Regions from separate parts of the Homo sapiens genome. Here region 1 is linked to region 2. Evidence: fine-mapped expression QTL. Tissue or cell type: transverse colon. Region 2 holds a variant in brackets; the other region holds the start of a gene. All regions are shown on one strand. Distances are between the middles of the regions.

Region 1 (8,108 bases), 79 kb before region 2:
AGTTTTTCTTTATGCCCAAGATAAGGTCATGTTTAGTAAATGTCCCATATGCGTTTGAATGAAATGTACATATTTGATTTGGAATCAAACCACTTTCCCTTTAAAAAATGTATACATATATTTCACATACATATGTCACAAACTTGTGCATTACCTCAATAGCATATTACTAATTTTTTTTTTTTTTTTTTTTTGCTGGGTGTGGTGGCTCTTGCCTATAATCTCAGCACTTTGGAAGGCCGAGGTGGGAGGATTACTTGAGACCAGGAGTTTGAGACCAGCCTGGGCAACATAGTGAGACATCATGTCTACAAAAATCTAAAAAAATTAGCTGGGCCTGGTGGTGTGTGCCTCTAGCCCCAGCTACTTGGGAGGCGGAGGTGGGGAGGCTGAGGAGGTCCTTGAGCCCCGGTGGGTGTGGGTGGGGGGCCGGTCGAGGCTGCAGGGAGCTGTGATTGAGCCACTGCACTCAGCCTGGGCACAGAGCAAGACCTTGTCTCAAGAAATTTATTGTGGTAAAATACACATAATACAAAACTTACCGTCTTAACCATTTTAAGTGTATAATTCAGTGGTACTAAATACACTTATAATGTTGTACAAGCATCGTCACATCCATCTCCATAACTGTTTATCTTGTAAAACTGAAACTGTCCTCATTAAACAATAGCTCTCCATTTTCTTCTTCAGCCTCGGCAACCATCATTCTACTTTGTCTCTATGATTCTGACCACTTTAAGTACCTCATATACGTTTAATGGAACAGTATTTGTCATTTTGTGACTGGTTTCTATCACTTGGCATAATGTCCTCAAGGTTCATTCATGTCACAGCATATGTCAGAATCTCCTTCCTAGGCCGGGCGCTGTGGCTCACGCCTGTAATCCCAGCACTTTGGGAGGCTGAGGCGGGCGGATCACGAGGTCAGGAGATCGAGACCATCCTGGCTAACACAGTGAAACCCCATCTCTACTAAAAATTCAAAAAATTAGCCGGGCGTGGTGGCCGGCGCCTGTAGTCCCAGCTACTCCGGAGGCTGAGGCAGAAGAATGGTGTGAACCCGGGAGGCGGAGCTTGCAGTGAGCCGAGATCGCACCACTGCACTCCAGCCTGGGGACAGAGTGAGACTCCTTCTCAAAAAAAAAAAAAAAAAAAAAAAAACTCCTTCCTTTTTTTTTTTTTTTGAGACAGAGTCTCGCTCTGTCGCCCAGAGTGGAGTTCAGTGACGCAATCTTTGCTCACTACAACCTCCGACTCCCAGGTTCAAGCGATTCTCCTGCCTCAGCCTCCTGAGTTAGCTGGGATTACAGGCACCTGCCACCACACCTGGCTAATTTTTTTTTTGTATTTTTAGTAGAGACGGGGTTTCACCATGTTGACCATGCTGGTCTCGAACTCCTGACCTCAGGTGATCCAACCGCCTCAGCCTCCCAAAGTGCTGGGGTTACAGGCAGGAGCCACCGGGCCCAGCATCCTTCCTTTTTAAGGCTGTATAATACTGTATTTATAGACTGCATTTCACTTTTCCATTCATCTGTTGATGAACACTTGGGTCACTGATGCTCCTATTAACATGAGTGTCCGGATAACTCTGAGAGAGTCTGCTTTCAATTCTTTGGGGTTGCTGGATCCTACAGTAATTCTGTTCTTATTTTTTCAGGAAATATGATACAGTTTTCCACAGTGGCTGAACCATTTAACATTTATACGTCACTAGGATACAAGGGTTCCAGTTTCTCTACCTTCTCATCAACACTTGTTTTGAATTTTTTTTTTTTTGTAGTTACCATCTTAGTGGATGTGAAGGATTATCTCATTGTAGTTGTGATCTGTATTTCCCTAATGGTTAGTGACGTTGAGCCTCTTTTTATGTGCTTATTGGCTATGGACCATTTGTATATCTTTGGAGAAATGTCTATTCTAGTCCTTTTCTCATTGTTATAAGATTGTTTTGTTATTGAGTTTTAGGCATTCCCTGTAATCTGGATTTTAATCCCTGTGAGATACATGCTTTGCAAATATTTTCTCCCATTCTGTTGGTTGACTTTTTACTCTTTTGATATCGTCTTTGTTTTTGAGACAGAGTCTCGCTCTGTCACCCAGGCTGGAGTGTAGCGGTGTGATCTCAGCTTGCTGCAGCCTCCGCCTCCCGAGCAGCTGGGATTACAGGTGTCTGCCACCACGCCTGGCTAATTTTTGTATTTTTAGTAGGGACAGGGTTTCACCATGTGGGCCATGGGTCTCAAACTCCTGGCCTCAAGTGATCCACCTGCTGCGGCCTCCCAAAGTGCTGGGATTACAGGCATGAACCACCGCACCTGGCTGATACTGTCTTTTGATGCACAAAATTTTAAAATTTTTATAAAGTCCAGTTTGTCTATTTTTTTCTTTTGTCTGTGTCATGTCATATTCAAGAAATAATCCAGACCAAATCTGTGTCTGGAAGCTTCTGCCCTACATTTTCTCCTAGGAGTTTTATACTTTGGGCCTTCCATTTAGATCTTCTTCAATCCATTTTGCATTAATTTTTGTTTATGGTATTAAGGGTCCAAGTTTATTCTTTTGCATGTGACCATAGATGGTATGTAACCTTTGCTAATGGTTTGTAATTATCTGAAAGGTATATTAGCTCAGATACAATGATATTGCGTTTGTCATCATCTCCTTATGTGTAAAGTGGTATTCCCAGGTGCACATATGCTCATGAGTTCTAGATCTTGGGGAACTGAATCTTGGTGTTCAAAAATTCTTAGTCCATTTAGTGCTTTCTAGCTTGAGTGTTTTTCAATGCTGATATTTTATACTATTAATACTTTTTTGGGTAAGAATTTGCCAGGCTTTTTCTTCTTCTGTTTTACTTCTCTGTGTATTTTCTAGGATTCTCTTATAAACAGCATATAGCAGGATTTGTATTTATCCAATGTGAGTCTATATATTAGTGAGCAATTTTATTTCATTCATATGTGTTAAGATTATATTTAGGCTGGGCGCAGTGGCTCAAGCCTATAATCCCAGCACTTTGGGAGGCTGAGGCAGGTGGATCACCTGAGGTCAGGAGTTCGAGACCAGCCTGGCCAACATGGTGAAACCCCATCTCTACTAAAAATACAAAAAAAAAAAATTAGCCGGGCATGGTGGCAGGTGCCTGTAATCCCAGCTACTTGGGAGGACGAGGCAGGAGAATCATTTGAACCTGGGAGGCAGAGGTTGCAGTGAGCTGAGGTCATACCATTGCATTCTAGTCTGGGCAACAAGAGTGAAACTCTATCTCAAAATACATATCTATATATATTTGGTATTATTTTTGCCACCTGTCTTATTTTGTCTACCATATATTTCTACTTCATTTCCTGTCTTTTGTTGAATTGCAATGATTATCTGAAGGGTTTATAATACTGGGAACGTTCACTGCTCTGTTTCTGTCTGAGTTGTCTGCAGATGCTAACCTATAGTAAATCTAACTTTTTCCTTATATACTGTAATAAGAAGGCATATACCGGCCGGGCACGGTGGCTCATGCCTGTAATCCCAGCACTTTGGGAGGCCGAGGCGGGTGGATCACGAGGTCAGGAGATCGAGACCATCCTGGCGAACACAGTAAAACCCCATCTCTACTAAAAATACAAAAAAATTAGCCGGGTGTGGTGGCAGGCACCTGTAGTCCCAGCTACTCAGGAGGCTGAGGCAGGAGAATGACGTGAACCCGGGAGGCAGAGCTTGCAGTGAGCCGAGATTGCGCTACTGCACTCCAGCCTGGGCATCAGAGCGAGACTCTGTCTCAAAAAAAAAAAAAAAAAAGAAGGCATATACCACTAAACGATAAAAAAAAATTTAAATTTGCTTTTATGTCCTCTTCCTTTATTTTCATCTTCCTGAATGTGATCATCTGTAATTTTAATATCCGTTCATTTTTTCATTATCAAAATTGGATTAGACTATACTAAGGATGGGAAGGTCTACAGAGCAAACAAACTCATAGAATGCTGGTAGGAATGTCAGTAATTATATACACAAGGGAAAACCGTTGAGTGTTATGTAGCAAACATGGTGACCTGTGTTTGCTGTTTGACCTATAATTTATAAATCTAGAGAAATGTGTGCTTATATACACCAAACTACACAAAAACACTTGTTCCTGGAAGCATCATTTATGTCAGACAAAAACAAGACACATAAGTGGCAGTCAACTCTACCATTCACATGCATTTGTTTGGAAAAAGATGAAGCTTCTTCCCTAGATGATGTTTGGTGCAAGCTACGCATGATGATATCAATAATTTTGAGCTGCTTTCAGCTGCTGAAGCTTAACTCTGTAATCATGTCATTCTTCTCCAGGTATCATTTATTCTTTATTTTTGAGGATCTTTCTTTTCCCTCTGGAGACACCTCAGTTCACAATCCTGGGGCGATATGGCAGAATCTTTTTTTTCGGATTTTGGCTTGTTGTGGTATCTGAAGGAGCTCAGAAAGGAAGAGTTTTGGAAATTTAAGGAGCTCCTCAAACAACCTTTGGAGAAATTTGAACTCAAGCCAATCCCCTGGGCTGAGCTGAAGAAGGCCTCCAAAGAAGATGTAGCAAAGCTGCTGGACAAACATTACCCAGGAAAGCAGGCATGGGAGGTAACACTGAACCTGTTTCTACAGATCAATAGGAAAGATCTCTGGACAAAGGCTCAGGAAGAGATGAGAAGTAAGTGCTGGATGATGGGGCGAGGACCCATGGGGGAAGCCTGGGAACAAGGTGATAGCATTGTTAAATGAGTGGCCACCCCCTCCATCAGATGAGAATGTGTGTGGGTCAAGGTGAGAGTTGAAGGTAGGAAGAGTTGCAGGCCAGGGCTGTTCATATGTGGGCCAGCGATGAACTGGGGACAGATGGCGTCCTGATACCAACTGTTCACCTATGGAGTGTCTTCCCATTTTTCCACCCCAAGTGGAGTCGTTGTTATAGGAGATGAGTGGCCAGTTAGTGTCTGCATTGCCAGGTCTACTGAGATGGAATTCTAGTATGGTAGTTGCCTATCTTTTTTTTTTTTTTTTTTTTTTTTTTAGAGAAAGGGTCTTGCCATGTTGCTCAGGCTGGTCTTGAACTCCCAGGCTCAAGTGATCCACCTGCCTAGGCATCCCAAAGTGCTGTGATTACAGGAGTGAGCCACCATGCCTAACTGCCTGTCCTTTTTGACCAGACATGTACCAAGGAGTAGGTAGAATCTTAAGACAATCAGACAGCGTATGTCCCGGGTACTACAGGAAGCATTCTTGCGAGCTTGTTTGGAGGTTCTAGTAGGGGAGCACAGCTTCTCTTCTGCCCGCGATGGAAGGACCTTCCTCTATGGGCAAAGGTTGTCATCGTCTTTGACCCAGGGGAGACTTTCAGGACGGACGCATATGGAGCAGTGAGGGAGGAAGTGGACACCCACCCAGCTGGCCACATCAGCCGAATTAGCCCTGGGGCGACCAATGGGGTGACAGACATCACAGCCAGGTTGTCCTCACGTCCTGGAAGCATTCTTTCTGCATAATGTCTTTTCATTCTTATCACAACCCAGGAAAGGTTTACAAGTGAGAAAACTGGACAAAACAGTGTTCCCATGTGTTACATGACTTTTCCAAAAGTGACAGATCTGACTCCGAACCAGTTCTGCTGGACTCATTGATGGGGTCTACACCCTCCTCTCGGGGGATACTTAGGAAAAACTAAATATATTCCCTATTAGGTATCTAGTAATTAGCATTTGTTTCTGATGATTGTTATCTTCTCCCTTTACTTTTGAGTTCCATCAACTTCTGTTACGTTTACTTCTGTTTTGTTCATGTTTCTTCTTTGTGTTGGTAATTCTAATTTGAGACCTTATTTCGTATCCCCACATGCTTGAGGGTATTTTATTTGGTTTGGAGTTGCTTGCTGTGTTAGTTTTTTGTTTTTTTTTTTGTTTTTGTTTTATTTTTTTGAGACGGAGTCTTGCTCTGTTGCCCAGGTTGGAGGGCAGTGACATGATCTCGGTTCACTGCAACTTCTGCCTCCCAGGTTCAAGCGATTCTCCTTCCTCAGCTTCCCGAGTAGCTGGGATTACAGGCATGCACCACCACGCCCAGCTAATTTTTGTATTTTTAGTAGAGACGGGGTATCACCATGTTGGTCAGGCTGGTCTCAAACTCCTGACCTCAGATGATCCTCCTGCCTGGGCTTCCCAAAGTGCTGTGATTACAGGTGTGTGCCAGTTTTCTTTATCTGTGTGGTTCGTGTCTTTGACTTTTCTGCTGATTAATGTTCTATGTTGGCAGATGAAAAAATGACCGAGTCAGTGTCTGAACTGAGAGTTTCTCACTTGGGACACTGAGGTCCTAAATGTTATAAAAATCTCTAAGACATGACATGACTTTTTTCTTTTTTGAGACGGAGTCTCGCTCTGTCGCCCAGGCTGGAGTGCAGTGGCGCGATCTCAGCTCACTGCAAGCTCTGCCTCCCGGGTTCCCACCATTCTCCTGCCTCAGCCTCCCAGGTAGCTGGGACTACAGGCGCCTGCCACCACGCCCAGATAATTTTTTGTATTTTTAGTAGAGATGGGGTCTCACCGTGTTAGCCAGGATGGTCTCGATCTCCTGACCTCATGATCCACCCACCTCAGCCTCCCAAAGTGCTGGGATTACAGGCGTGAATCATCAGTTTTAAATAACCTTGCTTATGAATTTTGTCTCAAAAAAAAACCTTGGAGGTCAGCAAATGTTTACTATGGGCAAATATAGAAAGTGAATAATATAATGATAAATCCATTCAATTAAATAGCATAGGGTTTTGCCAGGCGTGGTGGCTCACACCCGTAATCCCAGCACTTTGGGAGGCTGAGGTGGGCGGATCACCTAAGGTCAGGAGTTCGAGACCAGCCTGGCCAACATGGTGAGACACTCTATCTACTAAAAATACAAAAATTACCCAGGCGTGGTGGTGCACGCCTGTAATCCCAGCTACTCGGGAGGCTGAGGCACGAGAATCACTAGAACCCGGGAGGTGGAAGTTGCAGTGAGCCACAATCACACCACTGCACTTTAGCCTGGGCCACAGAGTGATGAGACTCTGTCTAAAAAAAAAAATTTTTTAATAAATAGCATAGTGTTTTGTGATGAAAAATGTGCATGAATTTAGAAAGATGTCCATAATATATTGTTCAGTCAAAAACCATGTTTGAAAATAGTATATACAGTATAATTCTACTGTAGAGAGAAAAATCGGGCAGAAGAAAAATGTAGAGTAATACAGACACAGATCAAGCTATGAGCCATGATTACATACATTGATGACATTTTGGAATGGCCTTATTTCCTTTCTCTTTATCTGCATATTTTTTAATTTAATTTTTTAATAGAGATGGAGTCTCACTATGTTGGCCAAGCTCGTCTTGAACTCCTGGCCTCAAGTGCTCCTCCTGCCTCAGCACTCCCAAAGCGCTGGGATTACCGGCGTGAGCCACCGTGCCTAGCATGTATGTTTTAAATTCAAGACAGTTTTACAATATTAATTTTATACAAAGTCAGTCACTGCTCAGAGACTTGAATAACTCCTGTGCGACGGTGTTAAAGGGATATAGCGGAGAATAAAGTGGATGCTGTTCCCTCCTGTGATGTCCACAGACGAGTGTGCAAGGAGAGCACAGACCATCGGTGGAACCGTCCCTGCCTTCCTGTGAGCGACTGTAGGGCCCCTTTGCAATCTCCTTCCGTCCAGTCCCTTCCCAAGACTCAAAATTTTTCTGAAATTTGAAAACTCAGATTATGAACAGGATTTTAATTCTTCTCCCTTCCCCATTTCTCATCACTCATTAGATAAACTTTGCATAAAATATATATTTTGTGGCTGGGCATGGTGGCTTACGCCTGTAATCCCAGCACTTTGGGAGGCCGAGGAGGGCAGATCACCTGAGGTCAAGAGTTCAAGACCAGCCTGACCAACATGGTGAGACCCTGTATCTACGAAAAATACAAAAATTAGCTGGGCGTGGTGGCAGGTGCCTGTAATCCCAGCTACTTGGGAGGCTGAGGCAGAAGAATCGCTTGAACCCAGGAGGCGGAGGTTGCAGTGAGCTGAGATAGCGCCATCTCACTCCAGCCTG
Region 2 (8,098 bases):
GTGCCAGACCCCACAGCAGCAGCTTTGCTGCCAACCGTCGACACACAGCAGCCCCGACGGGCACAGACTGAGCCCTCCAAGGTCCCACAGCCGCAACGCAGGCACGAGGTCCAGGCCACAAGCCCCTCGCTTCCCCAGCACCTTTGGTCTGATCCTGGCTCTGCCACGTACAAGCTGTGTGTCCTCAGCAGGTGACAGCTCATTCTCCCGGCCCTAGGCACCTTCTCTACCAGCAGGAGAGCACCCCACTCACAGAGACTTAGGGGAAGCAGGGAAAAGGCACCTATCTTCCACAGTACTTACACAACTTCCTAAGCCACTCCAGCTGGGCTGAAGGGATGGACAGGCCATGGGAACAGGACTGGGGGAGAAAGGGGCCCTTAATGGATCCCCCACTCACCAGGCACATAGACGGAGGGGTTCTCTGACATGCCAGGAAGCGGCTGGTAGTCGTGAGGCCTGCGGATCTTTAGTGACTGGCCCTGGAAGATGATGCCATCAAAGGCCATAGCCTGGGTAGTCTCGTCCACTGAGCGGAACTGAATGAAAGAGAAAGGAGTGGTGAGGGATGGGGGTCAGGGACTAGTACAGCCCCTAGTGTTCCAGGATTGGGATTTCCTCTTTCCTTTCACTCATGTGAACAAATACAACATGCCAGGCCCCAGGCTGGGCACTGGGAGTACAACAGACACGCATGTCCCTGCTGCCAGGAGCTCACACTCGACCATTAAAAACACCAGGCACCCAACACAAACACAGAGGCAAACACACAATTGCAGGCTGTGATGACACGGAAGAGGGACAAAGTGCTGAAAAGGGATGTTACGGGAAAGGTTAGTTGAACGGGGAGATGACAGTACTGGAGTCTTTCTGGTGAGGGGGACATTTCAGCCCATCTCCGGAGCAATGCAACTGCAAGTGGACTGCAGTGAGGCAAAGACAGAGTGAGAGGGACAGAGTGAGAGGGAGTGCTCAGACAGTGAGAGGGAGTGCTCAGAAATCTCTGCAGTAAGCTAACACTGCCCACACCTTCACAATACTTCATGAGAGTTATCAGTCCACCAAGAGTCGAAAATCAAAAACCAAGGCCTTTTCCCGACAGTTGAGAAACACAGACACAGAAGACTAGTTAGGAACATCAGTTAGCTGGGGTAACAGAAGACTAGTTAGGAACATCAGTTAGCTGGTGTAAAGAACTCTAGCCAAGCAGGCAGGAGCATGGTAGGTTCTGGGAAGGTCAGTGTGGCCAGAGTGCAGAGAGGACTGGGCCGGAATGGTCTGGAAAAGGCCAAAGAGGTCTACAGAGGCCAAACAGGCCTCTCAGGTCACACAGAAAGCAAATGGAAGGCAGAAAGTAGGATCAGATCTGTAATGCTATAACAGGGCTCACTTCAGCGACCGGGTGGAGAAGAGGCTGCAGAGGGCCTGGTGGAAACAGCACAAGGCAGCTCCACACAACATCAGCCTAAGGGCTGGGCCCTCACATCACACACGTTTCCTGGACCTCACTCACTCCCCCAGCTCACCTCCAAAAAGGCAAAATTCTTGTCCTGGTTAATCTGCACAGCCAACACTGGGTTGCCAGGGGCCTGGGTCAGCCCCCCCAGGCGCATCTGGGCGTTGAAGAAATCCATCATGGCCTCCTGCAGAGGGAATAGGAGACAAGGGGGGGGGCGGGGGAAGGGAGGTGGAGAGAGGAGGGGAAGGGTGAGAGAGGGAGACACAGAGGGGTTTGGGGGTAAGGGGAGAGGGATGAGGGGAGGGAGGAGGGGGGGAAGGAACAGTGGAATATGGGTGGGGGTGTAGAAGTCAATAGTAAGAACAGAAGCAAGAGAGAAAATGGGGAGGAAGCAGTAGCAAGAGACGGCCAAGGGCAGGCGATGGACAGGCGTTGGGGGACAGCCACAGGGGCCCCAAAAAATCAGGGGAAAGGAGAAGATTGTTCAAGAAAAGGCAGAGGGCATGATGACAACACAAAATGAAGAAAAACACGAAACACAAGAGATGAAGAGACAGAGCACACAGGAAGGGCCACCCAGTGGAGACAGACAGAAAAGTGGCAGGAAAGTAGAAAGGAAGTGGCAGGCAGGGGCAGAGACGAGCAAAGGACAGAAAGGGAGAGCAGGACAGAGACGAGCGAGGAGGAGGAAGTCAAGAGTGCAGGGGCAGGAGAGGAGGAGTGTAGGGAGGAGGGGCAGGGACGGGAGGGGAGGAGAAAAGAGTGATGTGGAGGAATCTGGCCCTGGAGTCCGGGGGCTGGTTTATCAAATGTAGCAAAGTGCAGGTTGAGAAAGTCAGAATGGACCTTACTTGCCTTCGACGATGGTAGCAAACTTTTTGTTGCTACGAGGGATCTCAGCCCCACAATATTTCACTTTAAAGAGAAATGGAAACAACTCTTTGATCTCGGGATTCTCAGGGGGTGCCACAGGAAGGGGTTGGGGAGAGGGGAGAGGGAAAAGGAGTGGTGGGGAAGGGGGAGGTCAGGGGCGATCAAAAATAAAAGAACAGCGACCATGGGAGGGACGTGGGGGAGAGGATAGGGGACAGGCGGCAGAGAACGAGAGGCGTGTCAGAAAAAAACTGAGGGGCAGCGTGCGTCTGTGTGTGTGTGTGTGTGTGTGTGTGTGTGTGTGTGTGTGTGTCCAAGTCTCCCTCTCTGTCTCTCTCCGACACGTAGGTACAACACGTGGGTACATTATGTGTGTGCTTGATCCCTGGGTTGCTGGAGGAGGTTGGGGGGAGGGGAGACGGGAGAGGGGAAGAGGAGGGAGGGAGGGCCACCCCCAGCCCGGCCCCTGGCTGGCTCAACTCCATCGGTCCGTCTGGGAGGGGGCCGGGGGGTCTTGCAGGAGCAGAGTCTGACCCGTGCAGGTTGGGGAAAGGGAATGGAGGGAAGGGGAGGAACGGGGTAGAGGGACAAGGGAGAGGGTAGGGGGCAGGGGAGGGCAGTACCTCAGTGATGCCAAAGGGGATGTTGCCCACGTAGAGGCGCCGGGCTTGTCTGGTCATCTGGCTCCCGACCACGGGCACCGGCGTTGGGGTCACAGCCAGACCGTCAGGGGTCATGGTGGGGAGAAGAGCAGTGGCTGGAATCTGACCCGCAGCTTCAAAGGGAATAAAAGCCGGATAAAACCCCATCAGGGGAATGCTCAGTGACCACCCCTCACCACACACTGGGAGTTCCCCTCCTCAGCAGAAAGCTCCTACAGGCTCTCGGTCTTAGCACCTTCCAGAACCCTCTTTCCACCCTCGGGGCCCCCACCCAGTAACTGCTGCTCCTCAGAAGCCTCACTTCCTAATGGCGTCCAGATGGAGGCCTCATTCCCCTGTCAACCACGGGTGTCTCTGGTCATTTCCTCCTCTAGGGAGGCTTCAAAAGCGCAGAGACCAGAACCCCCAGGGGTGTGCAACCCTCTACCTGTGTCTTTGACCCCCTCCAAGCACACACGCAGGGGAATGACTGACGGAGAATCCCAACCCCTGTACCCTCCCGCTCTGGGAGCAGCCTGGCCAGGGGCCTACCTTGCATGGCCTTGTACTGCATTGGGGTGATGTGCTCAAAGCCTGGGGGTGGCACGTCCCAGTATTTACGGACCTTCTTCTTCTTCTCGTGGCGGGGGGAACGACTGGGGGAGGTGGGAGGGGAGAGCGGGGCAGGGCAACCTCAGTCTGACCAACAGTGGGCCTGCGAGCCCCCTCCCAGGCACCCTTTCACCCTCCCCGCAACCATGTAAGCTCCACTCTCTCCAGGGAAGGAGAGGGTCTGGGGCAGGGCCTGGGAAAGGGGTGCTGGTTTCAAGGTAAGTGGACTCTTCCCAGTGCTTGGGCCAGGGCTGGAAATGGGCGGGACAGGGTGCACGGGCGTGAGGAAGGTGAAGGGAGTGGACATCAGGGAGGAAGGGGCAGGAAGAGAAGCTCACATCAGTCCACCGTGCTCCTCTTTAGCGCCTCTGGTCAAAGGTTTGCTGGGGGGTGGGAGGGAAAGGTATGGGGAGGGGTGACTGGGGACCCTCGTCTTCCCCACATGCCACACCCCCCCAAGGGCACTGAGCCCCAGGGTGGGAGCAGGGCCGAGGTCAACAAGCAGCAAGCAGGCCACCCTCGGCCCTGCCATTTCCCCCCAAACACTCCCACCCCCAGGAAAGAGGAAGTGAGGAAAGGAGAAAGGGGCCAGGGGCCAGGAAGGACCAGTCTCTAGCTGGAGAAACTGAGCCGGGAGGAGGCAGGAGGACTTCCGCCTATCCTGCCCTTCCTCACCTAAGGAGGCAGAGAACAGAAAGGGGAGCCTAGAAGGGAAGAGGCGGTGGAAACCGACACCCCTGGGCCAAAAAGTCAGCCCAGGCTGTGGATACTGCCTCGGTCCCAAGAGCTCCCTTCTCCTGGGAGGCAGGGAAGAAAGAAACTGGAGGCAGAGACCAACCCCCTCGAAGAGAGTCCCACAGAGAGCCACAGAG[AGT/T]CGAAAAGAAGGAACAGGCCCTCAGAGTCAGAGACAGAGAACAACCCCTTGTGAAGGAAAACACAGAATCAATTCCCAGGCTCCAGATAAAGAGCCTATTGCCCCCAGCAACCCACCAGCAACCACCAAGACAGAAAATGAAAGAAACCCCAGAAACGGGGGAAAAAATCGGAATCCAAGACAGACCAAGCAGTAGATCCCTCCCCCAGATCCACACAAAGAACGAACGAGCCACACAGGGCCCGGACCCAGACACAGACACACACAGGCCACCCACAGGCCGGCCAACACCGACCCCCCGACTCCCAGGCTGGCCCAGGGGATCCCTGAGCCCTAGTACCTGCGTCGTCGCCTGTCCCGGGAGGCGCTCCGCTGGTCCCGGTTGCGCCGGTCGCGGCTCCGGCTCCGGCGTTTGCGGTCCCGGCTCCGAGAGCGGCTGTGGCTGCGCTTCCGATGCCGGTTCTCCTTGTCCCGCTCTGGGCAAGGGTGAGAGGAGGGGCACGGGATAAGCGGAGTAAGGATGCGGGCCCAGCCCACCCTGCGCGCTGGTGGCTATGTCCCAAGCCCCAGGGAGGCCACCCCCAAAGGGAAGGGATTCAATGGAGGAAGGGAATTAACAGGCCTCCTGGGTCCACAAGCGAGTCCAGGGACCATGAGGGGACCAGGGGGACGGGGCCTGGAAATGCCCCCGGGGTGTAAGATACCTGAGGATGCTCAGGAGGAGCTGGGGAGCCAGAGAAGACAGAGGAGGCTGGCTCCTGGTCCCCCTCGAGGGCTGAGGGGCCTGACCCCAGGGTCGTCCCTGAGAGGGGCAGGGCTAGAGGCTGGGGAATCAAGAGACCCAATGATGTTTTCCTGAAGGGACCCAGCGACCCCTCAGGAAAGACCTCTGCAACTAGCTGGCACCCACAGCCCCACCATCAGGACTAGGGGTCAGGTGCCAGGCAGGATCTGATATCCCCAGGAAGCAGGGAAACTCAACCCATCCCTTCCCAAGCCGGTGAATAATGCAGAAGCAAGCACCCTTCCCAGGGGAAGAGAAGGGCCTCGGAGAATCTGCAGACTGAAGGGGAAAGAGGCCCTCCTCTCCTTCAGCAGGTCAGGGGAGGAGCTTGCCCCATCCAGACTTGAATCCCAAACCACTTGAATCTCTCAGCCTCACTCCCTTCAAAGCCAAGTACTGAAGAGACTGTAAAGGCGTGAGTAGGGGCGGGTATCTCTGCCAGCCTCCAGCAGGCTCCCTCAACCCTCTATTTGCCTGAGGTAGCCACTAGGAACGGAGCCTCACTGGCAAAACCACAGAAACCTCTGCTCTCACCAGACCCTTCAACCCCTGAAGAGAGACCGGCCCTTCAAGATGGAGGATAAACCATGAGCATGGGGGGGCGGGGGGGTTCATGAGCACCGCCACACCATTTCCTTAATTCAAAGACACCCAGATTTCTCAGCTAGCCATGAAGCACACACACAAAACAGATGCACACGTTAAGGTGCTTATATATGTTAACACGCATCTCCTGGAGTGATCATCCCTGGGGACAAGAGGAGGAAAGGGCACTGAGGGAGGATGTTAAACTTCAGCCTCACCCACAGTGTTTTGTCTCACGTTTTTGCGATGCAATGTGAATGTCTGGAAAAGCATCACAATTCCAAAACCACCAACACTCAGAAAAATATGCACCCAGCAGGGAAAAAAACAGCAACAAATATTGAGATGCTTCCTACAACCGGAATCTGTACTAAATTGTTTTGTTTGTTCTTAATCCTCACTACTGCTTCGGAAAAACACTGCTGGGGGCTGACATAATGGGTAAGGAAACTAAGGTATAGAGAGATCACAATTACCAAGGTCAAACAGCTAGGAAATGGTGACACCAGAATTTAAACACTCTGACATCAGTGAGTTAAGCACGAGGCCATACTCTCGAATGTGGATCAGGCAGAACACTCAGGTCTGGCTAGAACCATTAATGACAATATAATTGTCCCCTTGAAGGCCAAAAACCCCAAAATCAAAAACTGAAATTGGGAGGAACAATCGGCAGGACAGGCCAGCAGTGTAGAGCAGCGGGCACACAGGCACGGCACTGGGCACAGCTCCTCGCTTATAAGATGGACAGGCTGTGAGCCCCAAGAGCCCTTTCTGCTGCTAAGGCTCTGAAACAGGCAAGCAGGCAGACAGGAACCCACGCAGAGAAAGCAATGATGCCCGCTGGGTGCCTGGGATATAGACAAGGAAATTCCCTGTAGATACAGGTAGCAGAGGAAAGGACTGAAGCAGAAGGCGACACGTACAGAAGCTGGCCCGTCCTCCGCAGAGACAAAGACTACAGGCAGTGACACGCGGGCAGAGCTTCCCCTATGGCAAGAACCCTCTCCCACACACTGATGCTGGACAGGTAAAAACAATGAGAGCTTCGTTTGCTCAAAACACTGTATTGTGGTCATCTTATGGGAGCAGCTCCGCCAACCCAGGAGCCGTGCCAGGTCTCAGGGACTGCCCTACCAGCACCAAAAGGGAAACCCCGGGAGAACCGGTGAAGCACCATCTGAGAGCCTCAAAGAACCGCCCAATCAGCTCCACTTGGTCCAGCAGAGTGGAACTTGGCCTTGCAGCCAGAGCTCAGAATCAGTACCTGCTTTTCTGCTTATGAACAACAAAAACCATGCAAAAGCAACTTAGCCTTTAAGACTTGGTTTTCTCTTTAAACGAGGGTCGTATCTACTCCATCCAGGTGTTGTGTGGCAGAATGACATTTGGAAAGCACCTTTTCCTGCCCTTTCCCAACTCTGACACAATCTCTGTGAGCGGAAGACCCTCCTCTCTAAGCATGGAATTTTACAATTGCAAATATCGCTTACTGCACACCCAGTGTACGCAAAGCCACATGCCACACACTTTACATGTTACCCCATTTAATCTCAGCTCTGCCTCTGACTAGCTGAGCCCTGAGAAAGTTTTTAACTTTTCTGAGCCCTCAGTTTCCTCCCCAGTAGAGGTGGAAATCATTTTGGCCTCACAAGGCTGTTAAAAGGATCCACTTAGTAAAACATGCTAAGAGTTTAGCGAAGAGCCTGGCACACGGTAAGCGCTCAGAGTTTAACTACATCTATCGTTACTATCATCCTTTTTAATCTTCTCAAAATCCGGTAACAAGAAAATAATAATCAGTCTACAAATGGAAAAAAATATATAAACGTATTAAAAGCAGTTACTAAACGACAAAGCAGGTATCTAAACTTCCTGATGTGCTCAACTCCAAAGCCTATGCTCTTGAGCAGTCCATCAACTAAGACAGAGTCAGACCCTCAGTAAACGTTATTGCTTCCCCAGGACACTGTTTCCTAATACAGCCCCTACCCAACTCTAGCCCGGGTTCAAAGGAAAATTCCTCAGCCCTCATTTCGTCCTCCGAACGAGCTAGGAACATGGGCAGCTGAAGCCTGAAAAGAAACAAGTCTCCAATCTTCCCTGGTCCTGTATTTCTTCACAAACTGAAACACGGAGGATTTTTAAAGCGTCTTAACAACTCTCCCACTTCTAATATTATTGGAATCCCTAAGATCAGGGCCCCAGGCTTTTTGTTCTAACCCATCACAATTTTCGATACCCTGAAGGGAACCTGCCTCCCACCTTCC

Evidence for each region. PIP is the estimated chance that this variant, and not a neighbour inherited with it, causes the effect.
Region 1: it holds the start of NLRP9, and the variant in region 2 is the best candidate, but not a certain one, in a credible set for the expression of NLRP9 in transverse colon (GTEx, PIP 0.57).

Annotation. Positions count from the first base shown.
Region 1 is chr19:55,734,677-55,742,784 of GRCh38, reverse strand. It overlaps NLRP9 (NLR family pyrin domain containing 9), which reads left to right and starts at 4,383. Exons shown (of 9, transcript NM_176820.4): 1 at 4,383-4,690. The coding sequence starts at 4,411. It also overlaps the pseudogene RN7SKP109.
Region 2 is chr19:55,656,047-55,664,144 of GRCh38, reverse strand. It overlaps U2AF2 (U2 small nuclear RNA auxiliary factor 2), which reads right to left. Exons shown (of 12, transcript NM_007279.3): 2 at 4,800-4,935; 3 at 3,924-3,968; 4 at 3,526-3,629; 5 at 2,956-3,107; 6 at 1,527-1,643; 7 at 401-539. Among named protein-coding and RNA genes, the nearest start is that of U2AF2, 5.1 kb to the right of the region's middle. The variant AGT/T (reference allele first, on the strand shown) is at 4,458.